5 separate regions of the Homo sapiens genome follow, and regions 1, 2, 3 and 4 are each reported to be linked to region 5. Evidence: microRNA targets listed by miRTarBase, many of them from high-throughput screens and not tested one by one. Region 5 holds a microRNA gene; each other region holds the end of a gene's coding sequence.
The links. Region 5 holds the annotated microRNA hsa-miR-4651 (CGGGGUGGGUGAGGUCGGGC, at 2,372-2,391, opposite strand). A microRNA usually pairs through its seed, bases 2 to 8, with sites in the 3' UTR of a target mRNA and lowers its output. Matches are read on the target gene's strand: a 7mer-m8 pairs with bases 2 to 8, a 7mer-A1 pairs with bases 2 to 7 and ends in A, and an 8mer does both.

Region 1 (5,101 bases), not on the chromosome of region 5:
TAATAAAAACATCAAATACTGGAGAGAATGTGGAGAAACCAAACTACTAATACTTTGCTGGCAGGAGGTGAGACTGTAAATGGTATAGCCACACTGGAAAGCAATATGGCATTCCTTACAAAACTGAAAATGGAATTACCATATGACTCAGCAATTTTACTCCTGGGTGTCTGTCCCAGAGAAATGAAAATGTATGATCACACAAAAACTTGTACAGTACAGGAGCGTTTATGGCAGCTTTATTTGCAATAGCCCAAAACTTGAATCATTCAACGTGTGCTTCAACAGGTGAATGGCTAAACAAACTGTGGTGCATCTACACCAGCAATATAAAGAAGCAAACTATTGATACATATAATGGCTTACATGAGTCTCCGGGGAATTATGCTGAATGAAAATGGCCAATCCCAAATGGTTATATACTGTATGGTTTCATTCATATAACATTGTTGAAATTCCAAAATTACAGAGACAGGAAACAGATTATTTGTTGCCAGGGCTCAGGGAAGAGGGGAGGGTTGGATGGAGCTCTAATGGGGTAGCACAAGGGAGCCTTGTGTTGAAGGTACAGTTCTGTATCTTGACTGTGGCGATGGTCACACAAATATACACACATGATAAAATTGCATAGGAATATACACACACACACATACACACCCCACACACAAATGATCACATGTTAAACTGCAAGATGGTACCATTAGGGAAAATTGAATGAAGGGTACATTGGTACAAGGGTACCTCCCTGTACATTTTTTCAACTTCCTGTGAATCTATAATTATTATGTTGTAAAAATTAAAGTATTAATAAAAAAAACTAAAGCAGACATTCCAGAGCTCAAGATATCAAGAAAAGGAAAATTAACTTTGTCTCTTCTCTTCTTATAGGACCTGTACCTGCCTCTGTCCTTGGATGACTCGGACTCGCTTGGTGATTCCATGTAAAGGAGGGGAGAGTGCTCAGAGTCCAGAGTACAAATCCAAGCCTATCATTGTAGTAGGGTACTTCTGCTCAAGTGTCCAACAGGGCTATTGGTGCTTTCAAGTTTTTATTTTGTTGTTGTTGTTATTTTGAAAAACACATTGTAATATGTTGGGTTTATTTTCCTGTGATTTCTCCTCTGGGCCACTGATCCACAGTTACCAATTATGAGAGATAGATTGATAACCATCCTTTGGGGCAGCATTCCAGGGATGCAAAATGTGCTAGTCCATGACCTTTCAATGGAAAGCTTAGGTGCCTGCGTTATATTTGCCCTGTCTAATTTTGCCCATACAGTCTTCCTTCTGTAGAGGGCTGTTTACATATACAGCACTTAAAATGTTTGTGTGGGAAAAAAAAAACTCATTGGCAGATCCAAGAATGACAAACACAAGTGCCCCTTTTCTCTGGATCTCAAGAATGGTGGAGGACCCTGGAAGGACAGCAAGGCAGCTCCCCAGCCTCACTCTTCACTCCTGATTGAGGCCCGGGTTTGTTGTCCAGCACCAATTCTGGCTGTCAATGGGGAGAAATAAACCAACAACTTATAATTGTGACACCAGATGCTTAGGATCCTGGTGCTGGGTTAGCTAAGAGAATAGACAGAATTGGAAAATACTGCAGACATTTCCGAAGAGTTTATAAAGCACAGTGAATTCCTGGTCAATCTCTCCACTGAGGCAATTTGGAATCAATAAGCAATTGATAATAGTTTGGAGTAAGGGACTTCATATACCTGATTCCTCTAGAAGGCTGTCTAACATACCACATGATTACATGAACTGTATGGTATCCATCTATCTCTGTTCTATTGAATGCCTTGTTAACAGCCAACACTGAAAACACTGTGAGAATTTGTTTTCAGGTCTGACACCTTTCAGTCTCTTTTTATAGCAAGAAATCAATATCCTTTTTATAAAAATTCATGTCTGTATTTCAGGAGCAAACTCTTCAGGCTCCTTTTTTATAAACTGGTGATTTTTCTTTTGTCTAAAAAACACATGAAGAAAATTTACCAAAAAAAAAAAAAAAAGCAGAAGAATAATGTAGTTTAGAAATTATGCTGTCACTGCCAAACAGTAACCTCCAGGAGAAAACAAGATGAATAGCAGAGGCCAATTCAATAGAATCAGTTTTTTGATAGCTTTTTAACAGTTATGCTTGCATTAATAATTTCAATGTGGACCAGACATTCTAATTATATTTTAAATGAAATGTTACAGCATATTTTAAGCAACTCTTTTTATCTATAATCCTAATATTTCATACTGAAGACACAGAAATCTTTCACTTGTCTTTAACATTAGAAAGGATTTCTCTTTACTAAGGACTGATCATTTGAAATAGTTTTCAGTCTTTTGAGATACAGGTTTATAACACTGCTTTTTTTTTTCTGTAATCATAGCCCATAATGGCAAAGACAACTAAATTTAAGTGAAGGTCATGCATGCCAATTCTGTGTTTGCTTTTAGCAGATATGAAGATTTCCTTATTTCTTTGTAATTGTGCAGATATTTTGAAAGGCACAGCATTCGAAGCCAAGCTGCTGTTTGGCTACTGAATGGCTTGCAGTTGTTCCTCCACTCTAAATGGAATGAGCTTGCTGTGTGTGTGTGTGGTGGTGGTGGGAGGGGGTGGTGCATGTGTGTGTGTGTGTGTGCATCTGCAGCTGCTTCAAAATTAGGAAATACTACAGGACACCCCTGTAATGGATTGGTGGCAACTGGGTGGCACTGCTGATGTGCACTGTGTAGGGGGGAACCCAGTGGTGGTGGGGTAGCTCAGATGCCCCTAGACAAGCTTCAGATGTCTGTAGCTACCAGAAACATTTTCGGTTCAGGAAAAGTGAGATGATGGTAGTACTGGTTTCTGGTGAAATTGAAGAACCCCAAATGATGAGGATCTCTTTTTGCCCCCTCTCCTTTTTTTGTAGACCCATTCAAAACCATTAATAAGCCCATTTTACTAAGCCCCTATTTCTTTCTAGAAGCTCAGGGTTTTCTTAGTGCCTCCCAGAACATTTTGTAGTTAATTGGGAAAAAGTGATACTTGGATTAGGGGGTGTGGGCATAAAGAATGGTGGGAGGCCTGATTTTAAACTTCAGGCCAGAACCCCCAATGACTCCACCCATAGTCTCACTTTAGGTCTCATTTAGTCCATCACCTTTATTTTAAGTTGAGGAAGTGGAGGCTGGTAAAGAGCAGGACCAGAGGAAGAATCCAGATTTCCTTATGCTTGGGCCTCACACTAGCTCTCTGAGTATTTCCTTGATTGCGGTATATGTACTACTAGAAAATACCAAATGGATATATTTTCTTTAGGATAACCTTTGAACCAACAATCTTCAATAACAATAGTACATCTTCCATCTTACTTTTAATCGAGTATAAGGAAATGTTTCTTTATGGCCATTTTGGAGGGAGCAGGGGATGAGGCTTGGCATAGTCCAAAATTTAAGTCTCCAATAATTAATTGCATTTTAAATTGGCCCACTTTCAAGGCAATTTTTTTTGTGTGTCTGTAACTGAGCTCCTCCACCCCTGTCATTCACTTCCAATTTTACCCAATCCAATTTTAGCACTCAAGTTCCATTGTGTTAATTTCTGCACGGTCAACAAACATCAAGTCAGCAAGCATTTGCCACCACTCCCTATACTTCTCCCTCCTTCTTACACACACACACACACACACACACACAATCCATCTCTTGCTTGTTCCTACCTCCTGATTTTTCTTCCCTACAGAAATAGAAATAGGGACAAAGAAGGGGAAAATGTATATATTGGGGCTGGGCTGAACAACTAACTTCATAAGTAGTATTAACTAGGGGTAAATTGAGAGAAAAGCTCCTTTTCTCTTCACTGTTTTGGAAAGGATAGCCATTAGCATGACTGCTTTGTGTCCTTATGGACTTTAGTATTAGCCTAGATTGAATTATAGCGTTTTCTAGCTGGAAGGAACCTTAAGATCACATCATCTACTCCTCTACTCCAAATTTCTCATTCTTCAGGCCAGGAAACCGAGACACAGAGGTAAAGTAATTTCCCCAAGGTCACACAGCTGGCTGGGGCAGGATTGGGTTTACAACCCACATCTCCTGGCTCTTATTCCAGGGCCTTTTCCCACTAAGTAGTATTGCCTTCCATTAGGCTCCTGAGAGTTATTTCTCAGGGTCATGTTGCATCTTGGAGCCACATGCTGCTGCCCTGATCTCAGTGGGAAATCCACCCAGCAACCTAATACAGCCCCTTTTCCCTGCATTCACCTGGTTCCCATCCACATGGGTTGCAGATGTCCTTGAAGAGAGTGAGGCATTGAGGGCCAATAGGAGCAATGGGGTCCCTGGCCTTGTCCATCTGATTCAGGAGATCACTGCTCCATCGTGAGGAGCCCTCTGAATAGCCCCCCACTGAATGCTTGCCTTGCCCAAATGGAATGGAGGAAGATTGATTTTCTCCATCAGTTCACCTTGTGTCATCTCATAATGGTTGGTCTTTCCAGGCTGAGGGAAATGTTTCTTGTTTCCAGAGTAGAAAAAGAAAGAGTGGAACAATAGCTTTGTTCATCCTAACTTTCTGAGATGGCTTTTCAACATTTTAAAAAAACTAGTGTGGCTACCATTCACTGGCAATGATTTCTTTTAGAATATGGGAGTAAGATGAGCTAGAGAAAATAACCTGGTCTCACTGTGGTTGCCCTCATCCACAATGTCCCCAAAGCCATCCTGCTCTGATGAGGACAATTTCCAGGTATAAGCAAGGGGCTTTGTGACAAAAATGTACCCTGGCTGATGTTAAACATTGGCTCCTGTGTTTGCACCAAAATAGCAAGCTGTGTGCTCTATACACTCTTCCCATCGTCTTGTGTACACTGCTCCTGTGGCCTTCCACAGCAGAAACCAGGGCAAAAGGGTCCAAACACATGGTTTTCCTTGCTGCAAGGCTCTTCCTGGGAACTAAGGGGGTATTTATTAGTTCAGTTCTAAGAGACCTCCTTCTGGGCTTACCCCACTCCTCAGGTACTTCTCTCTCCTTCCTCCTTCTCCTCCACAGTCACAAGTAACCAAGGAACCTGAAAGTGGATGTGTAGCTATTTGAAGAAGGCAAGGAACCCTGAGA
Region 2 (5,101 bases), not on the chromosome of region 5:
TCCAGCTCTTCTTACTTCTTTTCCTCAGCCTAATAAGACTGATGATTTCTCCTTGGGTTCTATTTACCCATGCCATGATATAGAAAATCTACTTAGGGAAAAAGCAGGGGTGAATGTGAAGCTACTTTCTGTGTTTCACCTCTATCAAAGACTGTGGCACTTCAAATACTGCTTTTATTGGTGCTTTCTAGTTCTTTAAATTATTGTTTGAATATATTTTATACAACTTTTACAGTGTTTTTGATGGGAAGATTGGTTTTTTACAAGCTACTTTGCCATGGCTTAAATGGGAACTTCCTAGTGTTTTATAATTTATTATTATTATTTCCTTATTCAGGGCTATCAGGAAGGATAACGTATACTCCAGAAAACCTTTGCAGAAAACTGTTCTTACAACATGAAGGACTTAAGCAATTAATATGTGAAGAAATGGACTCTGTCAGAAAGGGCTCACTGATCTTCTCTAGGAGCTGGTCTGTGGATCTGGGCTTGCAAGAGAACCACAAAGTCCTCTGTGATGCTCTTCTGATTTCCCAGGACAGTCCTCCAGTCCTATACACCTTCCACATGGTACAGGATGAGGAGTTTAAAGGCTATTCTACACAAACTGCCCTAACCTTAAAGCAGAAGCTGGCAAAAATTGGTGGTTACACTAAAAAAGTGTGTGTCATGACAAAGATCTTCTACTTGAGCCCTGAAGGCATGACAAGCTGCCAGTATGATTTAAGGTCGCAAGTAATTTACCCTGAATCCTACTATTTTACAAGAAGGAAATACTTGCTGAAAGCCCTTTTTAAAGCCTTAAAGAGACTCAAGTCTCTGAGAGACCAGTTTTCCTTTGCAGAAAATCTATACCAGATAATCGGTATAGATTGCTTTCAGAAGAATGATAAAAAGATGTTTAAATCTTGTCGAAGGCTCACCTGATGGAAAATGGACTGGGCTACTGAGATATTTTTCATTATATATTTGATAACATTCTCTAATTCTGTGAAAATATTTCTTTGAAAACTTTGCAAGTTAAGCAACTTAATGTGATGTTGGATAATTGGGTTTTGTCTATTTTCACTTCTCCCTAAATAATCTTCACAGATATTGTTTGAGGGATATTAGGAAAATTAATTTGTTAACTCGTCTGTGCACAGTATTATTTACTCTGTCTGTAGTTCCTGAATAAATTTTCTTCCATGCTTGAACTGGGAAAATTGCAACACTTTTATTCTTAATGACAACAGTGAAAATCTCCCAGCATATACCTAGAAAACAATTATAACTTACAAAAGATTATCCTTGATGAAACTCAGAATTTCCACAGTGGGAATGAATAAGAAGGCAAAACTCATTTTCTCAAAACAAAACTCCAGGAATTCTCTGGATCTTCTTGAGCTACTTTCACACTATTTACTTGGAAGGGTTGTGGATTTCCTAACTGGTCAGCTAGCACCTTTAAAGAACTCACAAGAATGGTTACTTTATTTTTCTACAAGCAGTTCTGAATAAAGAAGCGTGAGATGACAAAATATGGAAAATCCTCTCTAACTAAGATTTGAAGGAAAGCAGCCAAGGTATAAGTAGAAACTCTTTTAGACAACGAGAGTTTTCATCAACAAGAGGAAGGAGCACCAGGGTCTGGCATTTCCCACTCATCTAAGATGAGCTAAGGGACCAAGATGAAGCTCAGCAGAGTGGGATACACCCTTGGCTGGGTGTTCTGAATTCATGCCTAAGACCTTCAGTGGGATCTTGGAACAGAGAATAGAGCCTAAATTACCCATCAGGGCCTCAGCCTTCTCCACCACTGTGTCCAATGCCAGAGGAAGTCGATCAATGCATTCAGTATTCTGAGAAAAGTTTTACTAACACATATTTTGCCAAACGAGATGATGTTTGACTATAAAGGAAATAGGCAGACATTCTTATCAAAGGATATAGGGAACGGAACGTAGTTCTCTTCTACCTTCTTGAAAACTATGTTACAATGAAATCCAGCCAATGAAGAGATGAATCAAAATGAAGAACCTAAAACGAGAGCATACTTGCACTCCTGGAGTCTCTCTCCAGCCCTGAACTGTGGCCAGCACAGTGTGTCAGCCTGTACCAGCTGCCGGTATGGGTGACCTGGGCACAGGCAAGGCCATCATCATCACACACTGTGTGCACCAGAACTCCTCTTGGCATCTCCAAGCCAGTTCACCATTGTGTGAACTGTGCACTGAAGGAGCTCCACTGGGACTCAGAGGCCTTGGCACAACTGCAGCTGTGGAACATTGCGATGAGGAAAGATTGGGAAAATGACAAGAGCCCATTGTCTGGAATTCATAGGTGCATTGATTGTCTTCAGTATCACCAGCCCAGCCCCATTTGAAGCAGAGCCAAAGTGGAAAAATGATTTGGACTAAACGTTAACTCATGGCAGACCAGTTTCTGTGGTTCTGTTGGCCAAGAAATGTGACCATGGGAGGATGAATGCAGAAACAGCAGCCTCAAGATGGGCCAGATCTACATGGAACATAGTTTTGTAGGATAAATTGAAACATCAGCAAAAGAAAATGTGAACTTTGATGAAGCCTCCAGGTGCCTGGATGCCAAATAGACAAATACAGAATATAAGAAAACACAATAAGAGTCATTGGCCCCGTGCCTATTTGGCATCATTGCAAGAAACCTGGGGTAGTAATAGTGGACGTATTTAGAGAGTGAGGCATAAGCTCACCTAAACAGCCTAGAAAATGTTTACTATGAGAGTAAGAAGGAAGAACACAAGTGGATATACGAGGAGTCCTTGCAATCTGGCCCATCAGTAAGTTTTTCATGTGTGCATCATTAGTCAAGAAAGTAGATCTGAAATTTTGGGGGGTCTTTAGTATAATCTTGGTGGAGTTGTAAAGTGGATTAAAAGTCTGAATTATATATATATCAAAGTGGCAGGTCTGGCAGTCATATTGTTGAACAGTGTGGCTGATACATTAATAATGTATGTGTACATTCGTGTATGTGTGTATAACCAAGGGGAAGGGGTGGTCATGGTCAGAGATGTAAGACAAGAGGTCGGCGGGGGGAAGCTTCAGGGAGTGGTAGGGGAGGGCACTGGGGAGCGAGTGGGTCAAGGAGTTGACTAATAGGAAACAACTACCTCCAGGAGAAGGCAATAATCTCCATTACTTTTTATTATTTTATTTTTTTTTTTAGGGACAAGGTCTTGCTCTGTTGGCTGGGCTGGATTGCAGTGGTGTGATCATAGCTTACTGCATCACTGAACACATGGGCTCAAAAGATTCTCTCACCTAAGCCTCCTGAGTAGCTAGGACTACAGACACCACCAACTCACCTGGCTAATTTTTAAAATTTTTGTAGAGATAGGGTATCACTACGTTGCTCAGGCCGGTCTCAACTCCTGGGGTTAAGCAGTCCTCCCATCTTGGCCTCCCAAAGGGCTCGAATAGGCAAAATTGAGCTGTTTAATGAGAAGCAGTGGGGATAATTATCCCCTTTCATAATGAGGTTCTATATAACAAGTCTTAATCCTTGAAGGGCCTATTCTAACTTAAATTGTGCCATATTAACTATTTTAAAGAGGGATTTATAGGGTCCCATTTTATCAAGCCATTTTTTAAGTGCCAAAATTTTAACTTTAGTTTATTATTTGTTGTGTCAGAGAGTCTGTGTCCAATAAGAGATACTTTAAAGCAATGGGTACAAAACTATGGGAAATTCAACCAAAGCAGTAAAGTGAGGGATAGTTATCCAAAATATTTTTTAACTTTAGTTACCTTTTTAAGATTAGAGGGCATACAATATTTAAATTTAATGAGAACCCCAAGTATAATATGTATTTTTTTGAGAAGGAGTTTCGCTCTTGTTGCCCGGGCTGGAGTGCAATGATGCTATCTTGGCTCACGGCAACCTCCGCTTCCCGGGTTCAAGTGATTCTCCTGACTCAGCCTCCCGAGTAGCTGGGATTACAGGCACCTGCCACCATGCCTGGCTAATTTTTGTATTTTTAGTAGAGACAGGGTTTCACCATGTTGGCCAGGCTGGTTTTGAACTCCTGACCTCAGGTGATCCACTCGCCTCGGCTTCCCAAAGTGCTTGGATTACAGGTGTAAGCCACCACGGCCCACTCCAAGTATAATTGGAGCCCCAGTATTGATTGAGTCCATGAAGTATGTCAGCTGGTATATTTTAGCAAATGCTAAAGTTAATTTAGACCTTATGTTGTAGAGACAAAAAATCTAATCAATGTCCTTTTATCTTTTTGTAATATAAATTCTTTGGTATATACATTCTGGATTTCTAATTGGGCCAAATTATGGACATTTGTTTTAATTTAGTTACTTATGTTATATCCATATCTATATGTACACATACAATCTATTCCTTAAGTCTATATTGAAATATTATATCGAAGGCCTGACCAGAGTGTCCGCCATGGAGTCGCAGAAAGAGGCGCGACCCCGTCGCGCGACCGCCTGGGGCCTCAAGGTCTCAGACGCCAAACTACAAGGAGCAGCGGGAGGGCGGCGCAGTGCTGGCGACGGCTGCCCTGGGAACAGAGGCGGACGACGCTAGTGCGGGCGGGCTGTGGGAGCTGCAGGTGGAGCCGAGGAGCTGAGGCCTGCGTGCAGCCGCTGCAAGCCGGCCTCAGAAAGTGTGTTTTTGTCCATTTCTCCCAGCGCACCCTTTGCATATCTCTACCTACTTGTGCATAATTCAGCATCCAGCAGAGGAAGACAAAATGTTGCGGACAGTTCCTCTACCAGCAGCATGCCTCCCCCAGGACAAGCGCAAAGTGAAGACTGGTCGTCGCTTCAGTGAAGAAAGAGATCCTGAACTTTCAACTGTTTGCCGGAAGTTTGGTACATTAATGTTATATCCAGGGGCTAATATAAGAAGCTGCTAATCTGGAAGAATTTATATTAGATTCTCCTGTTTATCCTTCTACAATCATCGTCATTGATGGTACACGGAGCCAGGCTAAGGACATTTTCTGTAAGAATTCCTTGTTCTGACACCCCCAAACAGGTGCAGTTAAAAACGAGCATTTCTAGTCAGTATGTAATTCGGATACAGCCAATTAATAGATGTCTTTCTACACTGGAGT
Region 3 (5,101 bases), not on the chromosome of region 5:
ATCAGCAGGATGTGGGTGGGGCCAGATAAAGGAATAAAAGCAGGCTGTCCAAGCAGCACTGGTAACCCGCTGGGGTCCCCTTCCACACTGTGGAAGCTTTGTTCTTTCACTATTTGCAATAAATCTTGCTGCTTCTCACTCTTTGGGTCTGCACCGCCTTTATGAGCTGTAACACTCACTGCGAAGGTCTGCAGCTTCACTCCTGAGGCCAGCGAGACCATGAACCCACCGGGAGGAATGAACGACTCTGGACGGGAGGAAAAAACAACTCCAGATGCACCACCTTAAGAGCTGTAACACTCACCGCGAAGGTCTGCAGCTTCACTCCTGAAGCCAGCGAGACCACGAACCCACCAGAAGGAAGAAACTCCAAACACATCCGAACATCAGAAGGAACAAACTCCGGACATGCTGCCTTTAAGAATTGTAACACTTACCGTGAGGGTCTGCAGCTTCGTTCTTTAAGTCAGTGAGACCAAGAACCCACCAATTTCGCATACACTGGGACCACAAGTGCACACCACCAACCAGGTTAATTTTTAAATGTTTTGTAGAGATAGGGTCTTGCCACGTTGCCCAGGCTGGTCTGGAACTTCTGGGTTCAAACAATCCACTCACCTCTACCTCCCAAAGTGCTAAAACGTCCCTTTTTTTTTTTTTTTTTTTTTTTGAGACGGAGTCTCGCTCTGTCGCCCAGGCTGGAGTGCAGTGGCGCAATCTCGGCTCACTGCAAGCTCTGCCTCCCGGGTTCACACCATTCTCCTGCCTCAGCCTCCCAAGTAGCTGGGACTACAGGCGCCCACCACCACGTCAGGCTAATTTTTTGTATTTTTAGTAGAGACAGAGTTTCACCATGTTAGCCAGGATGGTTTCGATCTCCTGACCTCGTAAATGTCCCTATTCTTGATCTAAATCTTTAGGGAAATGAGTCATGAAAGTTGAGCCCCTACCATGTAATATTTTCTCCTCTTTGCTTGTGTTGAACATCCCCACAGGCTCCCTGGAGCAGCTCCTGCTCCTGGCACCCCAGGCTTCTGCCCTGGAGCCACACTGACCCATGGAGCCCCTCATCCTGCTGCCTCTGGTTCATCTCTGCTGGGATGCCAAAGTGCCCCTCGGCTCTCTGTCTTGTCATTCCTCACCCGTGTCCTCTTCTGGACCATCGCGGCAAGGACCAGTGAGTCTTTCCTGAGGTGGGTGCAGTGACCAGGATGGCCAAAGAAGCCGCAGGGAGGTGCGCCCCCAGGGCATGGCTGGTGGAATCCTGTTGTGTTAGCGCCCTTGGCAGCCTGAGTGTGAGGAGAGCATGGCAGCAGCCAGAGACCCGCGTTCTGGGTCTGACTCTTCCCCTCTGTGGGCCTCAGTTTTTCCATCTGTAAAGTGGAGGGAGGTGGCTTGGAACCCCTGGATGGTTGCTAGGCAACCTTCCTGCACCAACATCCTGGGGACCTTTCTGATTGATGCTGAGGGAAGGGAACTGTCTTGAACTCCCTTTGGCAGAAGAAACTGGCCCAGCAGCTTAGGCAATGGAGCAAGATGACTCCAGGGCCCTTCCTCAGACCTGACTGAGAAAACAGAGCCCACTAGGCACCAGCTTATGGAGGAGACTCACCCCTGGGAGAAAGCAGGGCTTCAAATCAGGCTGCCCACGAGCTGCCTGCGGTGATGAGGGACATGGAGACCCCTCTGGGCCTCTGGAGGGCCCTCATGGAGACCCCTCCAGAGGCCCAGAGCCCAGGTGACAGGCAGCAGCCTCCTGGAGTATGTTTCTGCCCATCTCTGGAAAAACCCAGGTAGGCACTGGTGGGAAGAGAGAACATGCATCCTCCTGCCCTCCGTAGCTGCAGGCCCTGGCAACAAGCCTGGAGGCTCAGCCATCCTCCTTGCTCAGGGGGACTCTCCTGCCCTAGTTCTCAGCCCTGCCTCTCCACCAGCTCCTAATTCTGGGCTGAGCTAGGAGAGCAGGTAAAGGCCTAGGGATCCCTGCAAAGATGCACAGCATGGGGTCTCGAAGACACTCCAGAGAATAGGACCCAGTCCTCACAAGCGCAGAGCAGACCCCCTCCCGCCCCCACCCCCACCCTTCCACTCTTCACTCTATCCCCAAAGCATTAAAGGACAAGACAGGTACGATACTGATAGAGAACATTCTCTACAAAAGTGGCAATGAGCCTGCAGGAGGGATTCGGGGTACAGTGGTGGGAGCACAGAGCCTGCTCCACCCCAGCACCAGAAGAACCAGGAGGGGCTGCGGCAGTAAACGGACGAGGAACAGGAGAGAAGGGGCAGCACCTGGGGCTCTGGGAGAAACAAGTCGGCACTTGGGGGTGGCCCCAGGCTCAGGCCCAGAGAACAGGGAGAAGAGCTGTGGTGGGCTCCAGATGGCGGTGGCAGGCAGCCAAGCCCTCAGTGTCCTGCAGTAGGACAGGGACCATCTCCTCCATGCCCCCTACTCTGGGCACATGTGTGGGAATGGGAACCCCCAGACAGACCAGAAAGAGGCCTTTGAGGGCTCTCTTTCCCCTGCCCCAGCCATGGGGGCCCCAGGAGATGCTGGGGGCTGAGGCCATGCTCCCAGCAGGAGCTGCTTCCCAAGCTGAGGTCAGGGATGGGGGGCCATGGCTGAGAAAGGAGGAGAGCACCTCTGCATGGGGTGCAAAGGGGCGCACACGTGTCAGCGGGCTCATCAGGGACTCTCCCACATCTGTGACCTCAGTCTGGCTGGAGAGCTTTGGGGGCATACGTCAGAGGACACATGCTGTGACCACCCTCTGAGCTGGCCTTTCCCCTGGTCTCACCACCATCAGAGGGCTGGGACACAGGTGAGCTCTCTTACCCCCGATCCACGCAGAATCACGCAACAGCCCAGTCCCTACCAGACCTGGAGGGAAACCTACCAAACACCACCCAACGTGAGTGTGCACACACGCACACATGCACACACACACACATGCATGCACACACACACATGCACACACATGCATGCACACACACAAACACGCACGCGTTCACGTGCACACACACGCACACATGTATGCAAGAACACACACACCCAAGCACACACCCGTGCTCACACATACCACATACTTACACACACATGCATGCACACACGCATACATGCACACAAACATGCACACGCACACAGCCCTGGTGACCTGGGGACAATCTGCAGTTTAGAGGATCCACTTTCTCCAGTGTCCACATCGCAGGACTTACCCACCCCAGGCCTGACACCCAGCCACACCCTGTTCTGCCTGTCCCAGGCCTGGGAGACTGAGGAGGTTGGCGGACACCTTTCTCTAGCCCAGCGCATGCCTGCCAGGCCTGGGGGCTATAATACTGCAGCCCATTGGTCTAGCACCTTGCATCTAGCGCCCTGGCCCTCTGGGGTCCCTGGGGGGCCAGGCTGCACAACGAAAAAGGGGGAGGTTGGAGGAAGACAGGCCAGGCTCCACCCCTGGATGAGCTGGGAAGGGCGTCAGTACCCCCACCCCACCCCAACCCGGCTTTCCAGCTCCGGGCCTTGACCACTAGGTGAAGGAGGGGGAGCTGGCTATGCTTGGGATGGGGTACAGACTGAAAGTTGGGGCATTTGGCTGAAGAGTCTGGCTGAGGAACTTCCCCTCTGGGGTGGACGGGAGGAGGGGAGGCAGCCCAAACTCTTCCCTTCACAACAATGCAGGAAGTGAGCAAGTCTCTGGCCTGAGCACAAGAGAACAAGACCATCAGGGGAGGGGTGGGAGAGGCCACGGCGCCCGGGACAGGTGCACCCTCCCGCATCCACCTCCCACACTCTCATCCAGTTCCGATGCCCCTGCCCTCCCTCTGGGGCAGGCCTCCCCCAAGTCTACATGTCCTTTACGGCTGCTCAGAATGGGTGGCTCAGGGCCTTCAAGACCCCTCAGAACTGGAGTTCCGGAACATTCTCTTGCCCCTCTGGTGCCTCCAGGCCACACCCTCAGCTTCAAGGTGCAGACAGACTTTCAAAGGAGTCGCCCCAACTGGTCCTTGCTCCTGGGGAAGGGGGCTGCAGGGCTGGCAACTGTGAGGACCTCGAGACCCCACCATAGGTTGTGGCAACTTGCAATTCATTTTGGTCTGGGGAGAGGAGCCCCCGGTTATCTGTGGAGGAAGAGACAGAAAGAAACAGATCTCACATGAGGCCCTCCAGAGGCATCATTTTCACCCAGGGCAGCCATCTGGACAACTTAGCCTCCCCATCTCTCGGCAGGCCAATTGTCAGGGATGGGGGACGCCAGCCTATGGGTGACCTCCCCATCCCCAAAACTCTGAACCAGCCTGCCTCCCCACACCCATCCCTGCCCCAGCCATTCAGGATAACGGCCATAGATACCTAAGAGGAAATGAGGACAAAGTTTGTTGGGCCTGTGGGATGCCATTGGGGAGGGGCCAGGGCAGGGGCTGGCCACAGCATGACCATTGTGGTGGCAGCCTTGGGCAACTATGACGGCCTTTGGAACATGAACTCTGCCTCCAGGGCTGCTGCTGACCCTCTTGGGAGCATTTGCCCACGTTCCTGATTGCAAAGTTCAGGAACAGTAGGTAAAACATCTCCCTAAGGCCAGGCGCGGTGGCTCACGCCTGTAATCCCAGCACTTTGGGAGGCCAGAGTGGGCAGATCACTTGAGGTCAGGAGTTCGAGACCAGCCTGGCCAACATGGCAAAACCCCATCTCTACTAAAAATACAGAAATTAGCTGGGCATGGTGGTGCACTCCTGTAATCCCAGCTACTCAGGAGGCTGAGGCAGGAGAATCGCTTGAACCCGGGAGGTGGAGGTTACAGTGATTGTGCCACTGCACTCCAGCCTGGATGACAAGAGGGAAACTGTCTCAAAAAAAAAAAAAAAAAAATCTGCCTGAGGTCTTGGGCAATTGAGAGGCCCTGCTGACTGCACGCCCTGCATCCCATGGCAGCCACCTTGACCCCAGGCTCTAAAGCCATGCAGACCAGGGATCAAGCCTAGCTCCATGCTGAGCAGCAGCAGGACCTTGAGGTGAGCTATTCTAACTGTCTGAGCCTCCACTTGCTCATTGGCTGTAAAATGGGAACGATATAATCCACCAATATAGTCCAGCGCA
Region 4 (5,101 bases), not on the chromosome of region 5:
AAAGCTGGTACAGGGTGGGGTGCTGAGCTCCTGCACCTTGCAGCCAGCCCCGCCTGGGCTGTGTGACCTCAGACTAAAGGGACCTACTGTTCGTGGCACTGTTTTCTCCCATGGGAGGGGTCCTGTCCCTTTCCCTGAGCCTCCTGAGACATCCCCGAGATGGGGCCAGAGGCGGCCCAGCTGTTCTCCTCAGCAATCACCCTCACCTCTTTTTTTACCCTCTAAGAATTTTTATCTGATTACCAGCCAGGTGCCGTGGCTCACACCTGGTGCTTTGGGAGGCTGTGATGGGTGGATCACTTGAGGTCAGGCGTTTGAGACCAGCCCGGCCAACGTGGTGAAGCCCCATCTCTACTAAAAATACAAAAATTAGCCAGGATGGTGACGGGCGCCTGTAGTCCCAGCTACTCAGGAGGCTGAGGCAGGAGAGTCGCTTGAACCTGGGAGGTGGAGGTTGTAGTGAGCTGAGATCGTGCCACTGCACTCCAGCTCGGGTGACGAGCAAGACTCCGTCTCAAAAAAACTTTTTAAAATCTGATTACCAAAAATTACGTGGCTGTTTTCTGAAAATCTTGTTGCAGAGATGTGTAACCTGCAAGTTCTCCTTAATTTCAGAGGTAACTATTACCAAGCTGATATATATACTCCTTCAGACTCTTGTATGAACCATAGTATGCGTATTTCTTTTTTTTAAAATTTTTTTTTGACGGAGTTTTGCTCTTGTTGCCCAGGCTGGAATGCAGTGGTGTGATCTCAGCTCACTGCAGCCTTCGCTTCCTGGGATCAAGCGATTCTTCTACCTCAGCCTCTCAAGTAGCTGGGATTACAGGTGCCTGCCACCATGCCCAGCTAATTTTTGGGATTACAGGTGCGAGCCACCATGCCTGGCCACGTATTTCTTTATAGAAATGGCATTATACTATATGCAGTCCTTTATGGTGATCTATTCATAAACTTTTTTTTTTCTTTTGAGACTGAGTTTCACTCTTGTTGCCCAGGCTGGGGTGCAATGGTGCAATCTCAGCTCACTGCAACCTCCGCCTCCTGGGTTCAAGTGATTCTCTTACCTCACCTTCCTGAGTAGCTGTGATTACAGGTGCGAACCACCATGCCCAGCTAATTTTTCATATCTTTAGTAGAGACAGGGTTTCTCCATGTTGGTCAGGCTGGTCTTGAACTCCCGACCACAGGTGATCCACCTGCCTCGGCCTCCCAAAGTGCTGGGATTATAGGCGTGAGCCACCGCCCCCTGCTTTAAACATTTTACATAACAAATTTTTCAGTGTTTATTTCTAAAAAGTGATGTTAAAGCCAGGTGTGGTGGTTCATTCCTGTAATCCCAGCACTTTGGGAAGCTGAGGCAGGGTGGGTCGCTTGAGCCCAGGAGTTCATGACCAGCCTGGGCAACATAGCAAGACTCCATCTCTATTAAAAAATACAAGAAAACTAGTTTAAGTTTAGCATAGTGGTGTGTGCCCGTAGTCCCAGCTCTCTGGGAGGCTGAGGTGGGAGGATCACTTGAGCTGGGGAGGTTGAGGCTGTAGTGAGGGAGAAAGCGGGACTCTGTCTCAAACAAACAACCATAATGCAATAATACACAAACCAAATTTACTAAGTATCAAGGAATATCCAGTGTTGAGATTTCTGCTTGTCTGATTTAAAGTTGTGTGTTTTGTTCCGATTTGGTAATTCGGATCCAAAGTCCATACTATCCGATATGTCCTTTGAGCCTCTTAATCTAGAGCAGCGACCGGTTCTCAATGCTGAGCGGTTGGGGATCCCCTGGAAGCCCTGTGAAAGCGATGCTGGGCCCGCAAGCAGGCGGGGTGGGCCTGGAGCTAGGCGTTTCTCCCACATGCCCCGGGACGCTGCTTTGGAACTGTGCCGAGTCCCCTGCATGCCAGGCCTCTCGTTTCCTTGTGGTTTATCTGCTGAAGAGGGCAGGTTGTGAGTCCCACGGGTCTCTACAATGTCAACTTTGCTCATTGCAGCCCTCTGGGGGCTTTGAACTCATGCCTCTGTTGGGCGTCCATCAGCCCATCCGATGCAGGCAGAAGCCATCTGACTGTGCCACCTGGCTGCAGCCCACCATAGCTCCCAGCTGCTTGCTCCAGGCGCTTCTCCCTGATCTCAGCCACTCCAAGGGCACTCACAGGCACCCCTCCCTTTCTCTGTCAGGGCTCACCCCTCGCAGGGCTGACCCTCTACCCTGTGTTCCCACAGCCCCGTGCGCCAACCTGTCACACACATCCTGTGGTTTTACACTTCTGTCACTGACAGGAGCCTGCTGGGGACAGGTGCTGGCTCCACTCCCTCCTCCAGCACCCTGTCTCAGAGTGTACTGAGGTGACGATGGTGATGGCGTGGTCTGTTCTCTGCCTGACAGTACATTAGGTGCCACAGACCTGCCCCACTGACCATGGAGGATGCCCTGGAGGAGGTGAACAAGGAGCTGTGAGCGCCAGCAGGTGGAGCTTGACGTGACGTCTTAACAAAAGGTATCCCGTCCTGTGTACTCAGTGCACACACACGCACACAAACATAGAGCTCATCAGTGTCCAAGTGTGACGTTCCGTGGTGGGGGCAGGTGGTACTGGGGTGATGGACACACACACACACAGTCAGCATCCAGGTGTGACATTCCATGGTGGGGCAGGTGGTGCTGCGGTGAGGGCCCCAGACTCCTCTGAGCCAAATCCCAGCTCAGTGACAGCTCTCCCAGCAGCATGCCCAGCTCTATGACACCACAGGCCAGTGGAAATAGAATTTCAGTGGAGCTGTCCCCACTCACAGCAGGACAGGGGCCACCAGCCTCTGCAGAGCAGCTCCACCCAGGCAGGTCCTGGCATCCCAGTGAGCCAGAGGGAGACAGGGTGGATGGGAGAAGCCCTGCTCGAGGGTAAGGACATGGGACCAGGTCAGCACGCTGGGGACGCCATGTGAGCCCCTGGACACGGCCTCTGACCCCAGGCTGCACAGCTCAAACCAGGACATGTGTCTCCTCACTCAGCCCGTGCACACTTCTGACTTACACATGTGCGGGAGAAAGGTCTTTAAAAAAAGGCTTTATTTGAAGGCAAAACAATGAAATCCACAAGAAATTACTAACAGCACGTGTTTACGTTTTATCCTGAATCATACATTTTAACAATTCACAGCTACAGGAAATCTAGAACAAAATCAAATATTCATCACGTTGGGTTGAAAAGTTGGAAGATTTTGCATCTTATTGAAAAGAATTTTTCAAAAATGTTTCTGTACAAATGAATGGAATTGCACCAGGCTGCCCATGGACACCAGGTGTGGCCGATTCCCAACGGTCACCCACCAGCTTCTGGCAGGAGCAGCTCCCCTCCTGGCCTCCCCTCCCTTCGGGGGTGTGAAATGAAATGATGGAGTGGAAGGCGCTGGCTGGGGTCGGGCTCCATGCTCTGGATGGGACTGGGCCGTCGCACACGCCAGCCGGTGCAGGGTTCTTCCAAGTGCAAAACTCAAGCAGGGGACGCGACGGGCACAGACTCCGAGGCAGCGCTCAACCTGAAGTGTCTTAGGCTGGTTTCCTGTTAGAATCTTGTTTCCCAGATAACAGCAAATGGCTACATTCCAGAAAAAAAATATCAACTTATACAACTAAAATAACTGAACTAAGGGCCAGTACGCCTTCGAAGAATTAGGTTTCAGAATCTCACTGGGCCTCCTCTCAGGTCAGTATTCTTCTTTCTAGACCTAAACCAAGGAGAGTAAAAATGAAAACCCTGCTTCACTTCGCAAGTCAAGTCAAAGTTTTGTGTTTCTGTTTTTCAATCCGCGGGCAGTCATGGCACTGGGCTTCGGCTTTGTCCCTACACAGCCGAGGGGAAGCCAGGTCAGGGCCGGTGGGTGCGGGGAGCTGGAGGAAGGAGCTGGGGTGCCGGCTCTGGCTCAGGCCAACCCTTCCTGCACATGCTCCTCCTGGAGCCTAGGAGGAGGCTTCAATCTGACTTAGGGCAGATGCACATCCATCCCTTCGTGGCTGAAGAATTTACTCGGGCGGAGGGTCTTGTGTTTTTTGCTTCGCTATAAAGGAAAACGAGCCTGGGGCCCTGGTGGCTGCAGCGCCTCCTGGTGTGGTTTGTGGGTGGCACCCGTGCCCTCCACGCCATGGAGCACGGCGTTCCCACTGGGCATGCGCTGGTCTTCCTTCTCTTCCTGTGGCTCTCCACAAGTGGAGACGGTGTAAGAACTGAGCTGTCACTGCAATCTTCCTCTGCCAGTCAGCCAGGAAGGTCCCACAGCCGGCACCGCTGGCCACCGGCGCGGCTCCCGGCATGGGCGCCTACTTACACTCGTCCCTGGCCTTCATGCGGGCGATGAAGGAGTAGCTCTTGTTCCTGCGGTAGTTCTCATAGGGGTCATCCAGAGCCACGCCCACGCCTTTATACTGGTCCCACTTATCCCGGACGTCCCCGCCCTTGATGGGGTCCTGGATCCCTTGCTCCTTCGCACCGAGGCCGCCTGAGCCGCTCCAGCCTGGAAACAGAGACGCAGTCACAACCACAACAAGGCGGAGGCAGATGGGGGTGCACGTGGGGGGCTGAATGTCCAGACAGGCAGTGTAGACATGGGAAATGGGTAGAGAGAACCCGCAGGCCGGCCCTGTCTAGAGGGTCTGGGTGGAGTCAGAACCGGCCTGACTCCATCCATCCCCACATGCACTGAGGAAGAGAAAGCGCTGGTGACTCCCGGGCCCAGCACGCGTGAGGACCCATCCCGCGCCCTCCCCATTCCCTCGCCTTACCCATCTTCACCAGCATCTGATGGCCTTTGTTCTCTTCTCCGAGCCTTGAGTCAGGGATGGGAGGCGCCGAATTAGAACCCAGACCAGCAGAGGAACTAAAATCGAGACAGGTTATTCTTTTTAAGAAGTAACTGAGACATTTATTGGAATGACAGTGATGAGGACCTCACAGCCGCAGCTTGCGTGCATGCTCACTGTCACCAGGTGACACCGTATGCAGATTTTGCGTCTCTACCCGTTTATCCTGTCTCAGCTAGATAAGGGGGCTCCAGACGCTGGCCCCCACCCCACGCTCAGCATTGAGAGCAGGACACCTCCAACCCA
Region 5 (5,101 bases):
TTTAAGTGAGTCTGACATATAACAGAAAGTTAAATCCCAACATGCTCAATTGAGGCCACACACGGTGCTAGTGCCAGAGCTTGACCTCTGTTTCTCTGGCTCCTCCCTAAAGCACAAGGACATCGAAGCTCTTGTAGGGGCGGCCAGCCTCTCTGGAACCATGAAAGGTCCTATAACTTCAAGAGCTTCCATCAGAAAAAAAAAAAAAAAAAAGAAGAAGAAATAAGAAAGCCAGGAACGGTGGCTCACACCTGTAATCTCAGCACTTTAGGAGGTCAAAGCAGGAGGACCACTTGAACCCCAGAATTCGAGACCAGCCTGGGCAACATGGCAAACCAAATCTCTAAAAAACATTTAAAAAATTAGCTGGGTGTGGTGGTGCGTGCCTGTACTCCCAACTACTTGGGAGGCTGAGGAGGGAGGATTGCTTGAATCCTGGAGGTTGAGGCTGCAGTGAGCTATGATTGCGCCACTGCACTCCAGCCTGCACGACAGAGTGAGACCTGTCTCACAAAAAAAAAAAAGTTACTTAAAAGCTAAATTATTTTTAACTTGAAATGTTCCATGGACTTCACGAGTAAATGTTCTGGATTTGCCAAGCAGTTTTGATTTCAATTGGCCTGTCTCCTAATCATACACAGACTTACCTAACACAGATTCTGATTTTCAAGGGGTTAAGGGTGGATCAACCCAGAGTTAACCAACAGCAGGTCCTAAAATTCAGGTATGTCTGGCAGCAAACATCCTCTGTGGCATTTATAAACTCCTACTACCCAGGACGATCCACACCTGATTTACATTGGCTGCGGTCAATGCTGCTGTTTTCAGGAATATCCCTGGGTTGTTTCATTTCAAATCTACCTATTATTTCTTCAAGTGCTAGACCTGAAGAATTTTGGAAAATTAAGATCACTCCTAAGTTTCCACACCACCACGCAACTGGCAGCTAGCATCCCATTCTCTGAAATGCGGATGTTGTACAAATACTTTTTATAATAAGCTATCTGCTCAGCGAAAGTTTCCAACATTAGATGGCATGAAGGTCATAAGTAGCTCAAAAACCACTCTCTTAAAAGGAAAATAAGAACTCCTAAAACAGCCCTCCTCCCAAAAAAAAGGAAGTGGACCTTTCTGGGTTCCCTGGTTTACTAACTGGGCCTTTGGAGCTGTTCTCCTGACCAAGCCAACCCCATAACCACTCAAAAGGGATTTCCGTAGGTAGAACTTGCAAATGGTTAATGAATCAATGCCTTCTCCATAAAGCAAGACCCAAGGAATTACAGCAGTGAACAACGGTGGGGATACTGGATCCCCCAGAGGGTTCCATAAACGTTCTGCTTACAAGGAGGATTAAAGTTCTCGATGCCACTCTCTGGGACCCTGTCTTGATCCTCAGAATCTCAACCCTGTGGGGAGAGCAGGGTGGCTGTCTTACTACCAGACCCACTGATCAGAAAACGGAGGCTCCAGGAGGTATCTTGCTTGCCAAGAATCAAACCAGGGCCACCCAGTCCAGTCCTGTCTCCTTTTGTGCTGGCATCATTCTCCAGCTTGGCCAAGCTCAGAGGCAAGGCAAGGCAAGGCTGCAGCTTTAAGGGTTTAAGAGAGGAGACAGCCACTTTCATTGAAACAGCCCCAAACTCCTTATTAGTGGTCACCAGTTTACACAAGGGTAACTCGTTTTGAAAAACAATACGCAGAAAGTCGAAGTCAATCAAGCTCACTGAAACCTCTACTCTCCTCCCCCTGGCGCCCAAGAGACCTTGAACTCTTACCCAATTGCTCCCCCGATCTAAGGGTGTCCCGGCTCCCCCAGGAGATCCGGGTACCTGTGTTGTGGGGGCCGCCGAGACACCTGACTGCGAGGGGCACTGCCCTCAGGGATGCAGGCCGGGCTGGGGGGCTCCCGTGATCCATCGACTCAGCCCACCTGATGCTGCAGGGTTAGATTCGGGTCCCATGAGCATGCATCGAGCGCCTCTCACGTTAGGTACCCCCAGAATTCGCTGCCTCCCGAGGCCCATTCATCGTACAGATGGGGAAACTGAGGCTCGGAGAGTTAAAGTGGCTTAGCCCGTGGGGGGCGGCGGCGCGGGGACTGGACCCCGAGCCCTGAGATACCGAGCCCTAACCCTCAGCCGAGGGCCTGCCGGGCTCTCTCGGCCCAAGCTGTGGAAAAGTCGACCCTCAGGCCGCCGCGGGAGATCAGCTCTAGGGGAAGGGCGACGCGGAGGAGGGCCGGGGTGGGAGCCATGCCTTCCGCCCGAGCGTCGGGCCAGACGCGCAGTGCCCAGGCCCGAGGGCCCACCCCGACGCAGAGAGCCAGGCGGCCGCGGTGAACTGAGGCGCCCGGCAAACCCCGAGTCTTGGGGCCCGACCTCACCCACCCCGCCGTCGCCGCGAAAGATAGCACTCACCGCTGGCAGCCCGGCTGCTCTCTGCGGGCACCTGGGCAGGGCTCAGGCCCACACCACTGAGGCGCTACCACCGCCTTCGCCGGCCGCGGGGGTGGGGGCGTGGCCATTGGGCCGCCGCCCCGCCCACTCGAGCCGCGCGTGCATTCCCGGAGCCCCGCGCTTCCCCCTGCAAATTTGCGCTCTTGGTACGGCCCGGCCCGGCCACGCCCCCTCGCGGCTCGGCTGGGTCGCCCGGCAGAGAAATGAAAGTGCGTGGTTCCGGGGGTGGCGGAGTCGCCTGGAGACGGCGGCTGCGGCTTCTACAGCTCGGACCCTGCAGGTCACCGGGCCGGCTGCCCACCTTCCCGGGGATCACTGCAGAACTGTGGCTGTGCGCCCGCCGGTCTAGCCTCCTCCTTCGGGCCGCCGCTTGCTTGTGATCGCCACATTGTCTCCTCCACGGCCCTGTTTCCTCACCTGAAATTGGCGAGGCTTCAGGCCCAAGTCGTCTCCCTGGGTTCCCTCCATCCAGCCTGACGGCGGAGGGCGCGCGTTTGTTTTTAGAGACAGGGTCTCGTTCTGTCGCCCAGGCTGGATTGCAGTGGTGCAGTCACAGCTCACTGCAGCCTTCAACTCCTGTGCTCAGGCGATTCTCCCACTTCAGCCTCCCAGTAGCTGGGACTACAGGCGCGCCACCACACCTAGCTAATTTTATTTTATTTTATTTGCAGAGATGCGGTCTCGCTATGATGCCCAGGTTGGTCTCGAACTGGTCTCAAGTGATCCTCCCTCCTCGGCCTCTCAAAGCGCTGCGATTACAGGCGTGAGGTCCCACACGCTGCCTAGAGCTCGCTTTTGAAGGCCGGCCTGTTGGGGGTGGGAAGTGACCAAGCAGGAGGCAAGCCCTGGATGGAAGAGGAGTGGGGGGATACAGAGAGCTTCTGGGGTTTGAAAAGTCTGGCAGCCTTGGTTGGGGAGTGAAGCCCACCTCTGCCTCCTGCTATGGTTTCTACTTTACAGGGTCATGAAGATTAAGTGGTATAACCTTTGTTCCTAAAGGATTTAGAGCACGGCATTACTAAGTGTTCTCATCGCCATTGTTATTATTACTACTACTACTATTATTACTAGCTGTGCTGTGAATTCCTTTTGCAACACTGTGCAACTCACTTCTCTCAGAGCCCCTTCTCCATCTTTTAAAAATAGCCCAGGCACGGTGGCTCACGCCTGTAATCCCAGAACTTTGGTAGGCTGAGGTGGGCGGATCACCTGAGGTCAGGAGTTCGAGACCAGCCTGACCAACATGGCAAAACCCCGTCTCTACTAAAAATACAAAAATTAGCTGGGCATGGTGGCGGGTGCCTGTAATCCCACCTACTGGGGAGACTGAGGCAGGAGACCCACTTGAACCCCGGAGGCAGAGGTTGCAGTGAGCCCAGTTCACACCACTGCACTCCAGTGTGGCCGACAGAGTGACACTCCGTCTCACAAAAAAAAAAAAGTTAATTTATAAAATAATACATAAATATAACATTTATATATTATATAAATGTTATATTTGTTATATTTATATATTATATAAATAATATATATTATATAATAACATATATGTTACTTATTTTTTGAAACAGGGTCTCCCTTTGTCGCTGAGGCTGGGATGCAGCCTCGACCTCCTGGGCTCAGGTGATCCTCCTGCCTCAGCCTCCCTAGTAGCTGGAATTACAGGCATGCGCCACCACAACTGGCTAATTTTTGTATTTTTATTTTTCATTTTAAAGAAAGTTGATTGAAATTTTTTTGTAGAGATGGTGTTTTGCCATGTTTCCCAGGCTGGTCTCAAACTCCAGACCTCAAGCAGTCCTCCCACCTTGGCCTCCCAAAGTGCTGAGATTACAGGTGTGAGCACTGCACCTAGCCTAATTTTTAAATTTTTTGTAGAGACAGAGTCTCGCTATGTTGCCCAACCTGGTCTTGAACTCCTGGCCTCAAGGGATCCCTTGCCTCGGCCTCCCAAAGTGCAGGAATTACAGATGTGAGCCACCATTCCCATCCACTCTTCATCTTTAAAATATTGTGAAAATAGCAAAATCCTATATAAAGAGATTATTACCATGGCCCAGGTGCCAGGTTTCCTATGTCCAGGAACCAGTCCCTCCAACAGGTTGGATGAATGCAGTAGCCCTCAGGGTGGGGCACAATACCTGTCCAAAGAAGGGACTGAACTCCACACTCACCCAGAGAGAGAGCTGTGGAGAAATTCACCCAGATATCTGATACTCTGTGCCATCTTTTCAACACCCTGTTGGACATCTCCCCAGGATGTCCCAGTGAGGCTTCAAATTTGGACTTTGACTCCATGCCCCCTGCTTTTTTTGAAACCAGAACTCCTAAAACACTGAGTCTTCTCTGTCTGCTAATAATATAGCATCACTAAGGAAACATCAGGAAACAGGCATTTTACCTCTTTGGCCTTTTCCCATTGAACCAATAACTGGGTCCTATGGATTCTATCTCCAGAACCTCCTCTTGTCATCTTTTCTGCTGTCCCTGTTCCAGTTGGGGCCACGTGGGTTCACCGTTCACCTGGATGATCTCAGCAGCTTCCTGACTTTTTTGGGGGGGATGGAGTCTCACTGTGTCACCCAGGCTGCAGTGCAGGGGCACCATCTCAGCTCACTGCAACCTCTGCCTCCTGAGTTCAAGCG

Region 1: the mRNA of DCX is a reported target of hsa-miR-4651. Seed matches in the 3' UTR shown: 7mer-m8 at 3,518-3,524.
Region 2: the mRNA of SLFN12 is a reported target of hsa-miR-4651. The part of its 3' UTR that is shown has no 7-base or 8-base seed match.
Region 3: miRTarBase lists USH1G as a target of hsa-miR-4651. Seed matches in the 3' UTR shown: 7mer-m8 at 3,734-3,740, 8mer at 3,627-3,634, 7mer-A1 at 2,650-2,656 and 7mer-m8 at 2,325-2,331.
Region 4: the mRNA of CHERP is a reported target of hsa-miR-4651. Seed matches in the 3' UTR shown: 7mer-A1 at 3,904-3,910.

What each region holds. Positions count from the first base shown.
Region 1 is chrX:111,297,531-111,302,631 of GRCh38, reverse strand. DCX (doublecortin) reads left to right here. Exons shown (of 7, transcript NM_001195553.2): 7 at 889-5,101. The coding sequence ends at 945. Among named protein-coding and RNA genes, the nearest start is that of CAPN6, 30 kb to the right of the region's middle.
Region 2 is chr17:35,407,164-35,412,264 of GRCh38, reverse strand. SLFN12 (schlafen family member 12) reads left to right here. Exons shown (of 4, transcript NM_018042.5): 4 at 338-1,343. The coding sequence ends at 927. It also overlaps the pseudogene LOC729839. Among named protein-coding and RNA genes, the nearest start is that of SLFN12, 23 kb to the left of the region's middle. RefSeq lists a silencer at 4,001-4,214.
Region 3 is chr17:74,913,955-74,919,055 of GRCh38, forward strand. It overlaps USH1G (USH1 protein network component sans), which reads right to left. Exons shown (of 3, transcript NM_173477.5): 3 at 2,129-4,122. The coding sequence ends at 4,119. Among named protein-coding and RNA genes, the nearest start is that of USH1G, 6.8 kb to the right of the region's middle.
Region 4 is chr19:16,514,844-16,519,944 of GRCh38, forward strand. It overlaps CHERP (calcium homeostasis endoplasmic reticulum protein), which reads right to left. Exons shown (of 17, transcript NM_006387.6): 16 at 4,778-4,872; 17 at 3,051-4,509. The coding sequence ends at 4,316. It overlaps C19orf44 (chromosome 19 open reading frame 44), which reads left to right. Exons shown (of 9, transcript NM_032207.4): 8 at 2,387-2,498. The coding sequence ends at 2,458. Among named protein-coding and RNA genes, the nearest start is that of C19orf44, 21 kb to the left of the region's middle.
Region 5 is chr7:75,912,496-75,917,596 of GRCh38, reverse strand. It overlaps MIR4651 (microRNA 4651), which reads right to left and starts at 2,400; the gene lies at 2,328-2,400. POR (cytochrome p450 oxidoreductase) reads right to left here and starts at 2,442. Exons shown (of 16, transcript NM_001395413.1): 1 at 2,418-2,442. LOC124901680 (a long non-coding RNA gene) reads right to left here and starts at 5,056. Exons shown (of 2, transcript XR_007060393.1): 1 at 4,858-5,056; 2 at 3,103-3,301. RefSeq lists a silencer at 2,235-2,724 and an enhancer at 2,985-3,034.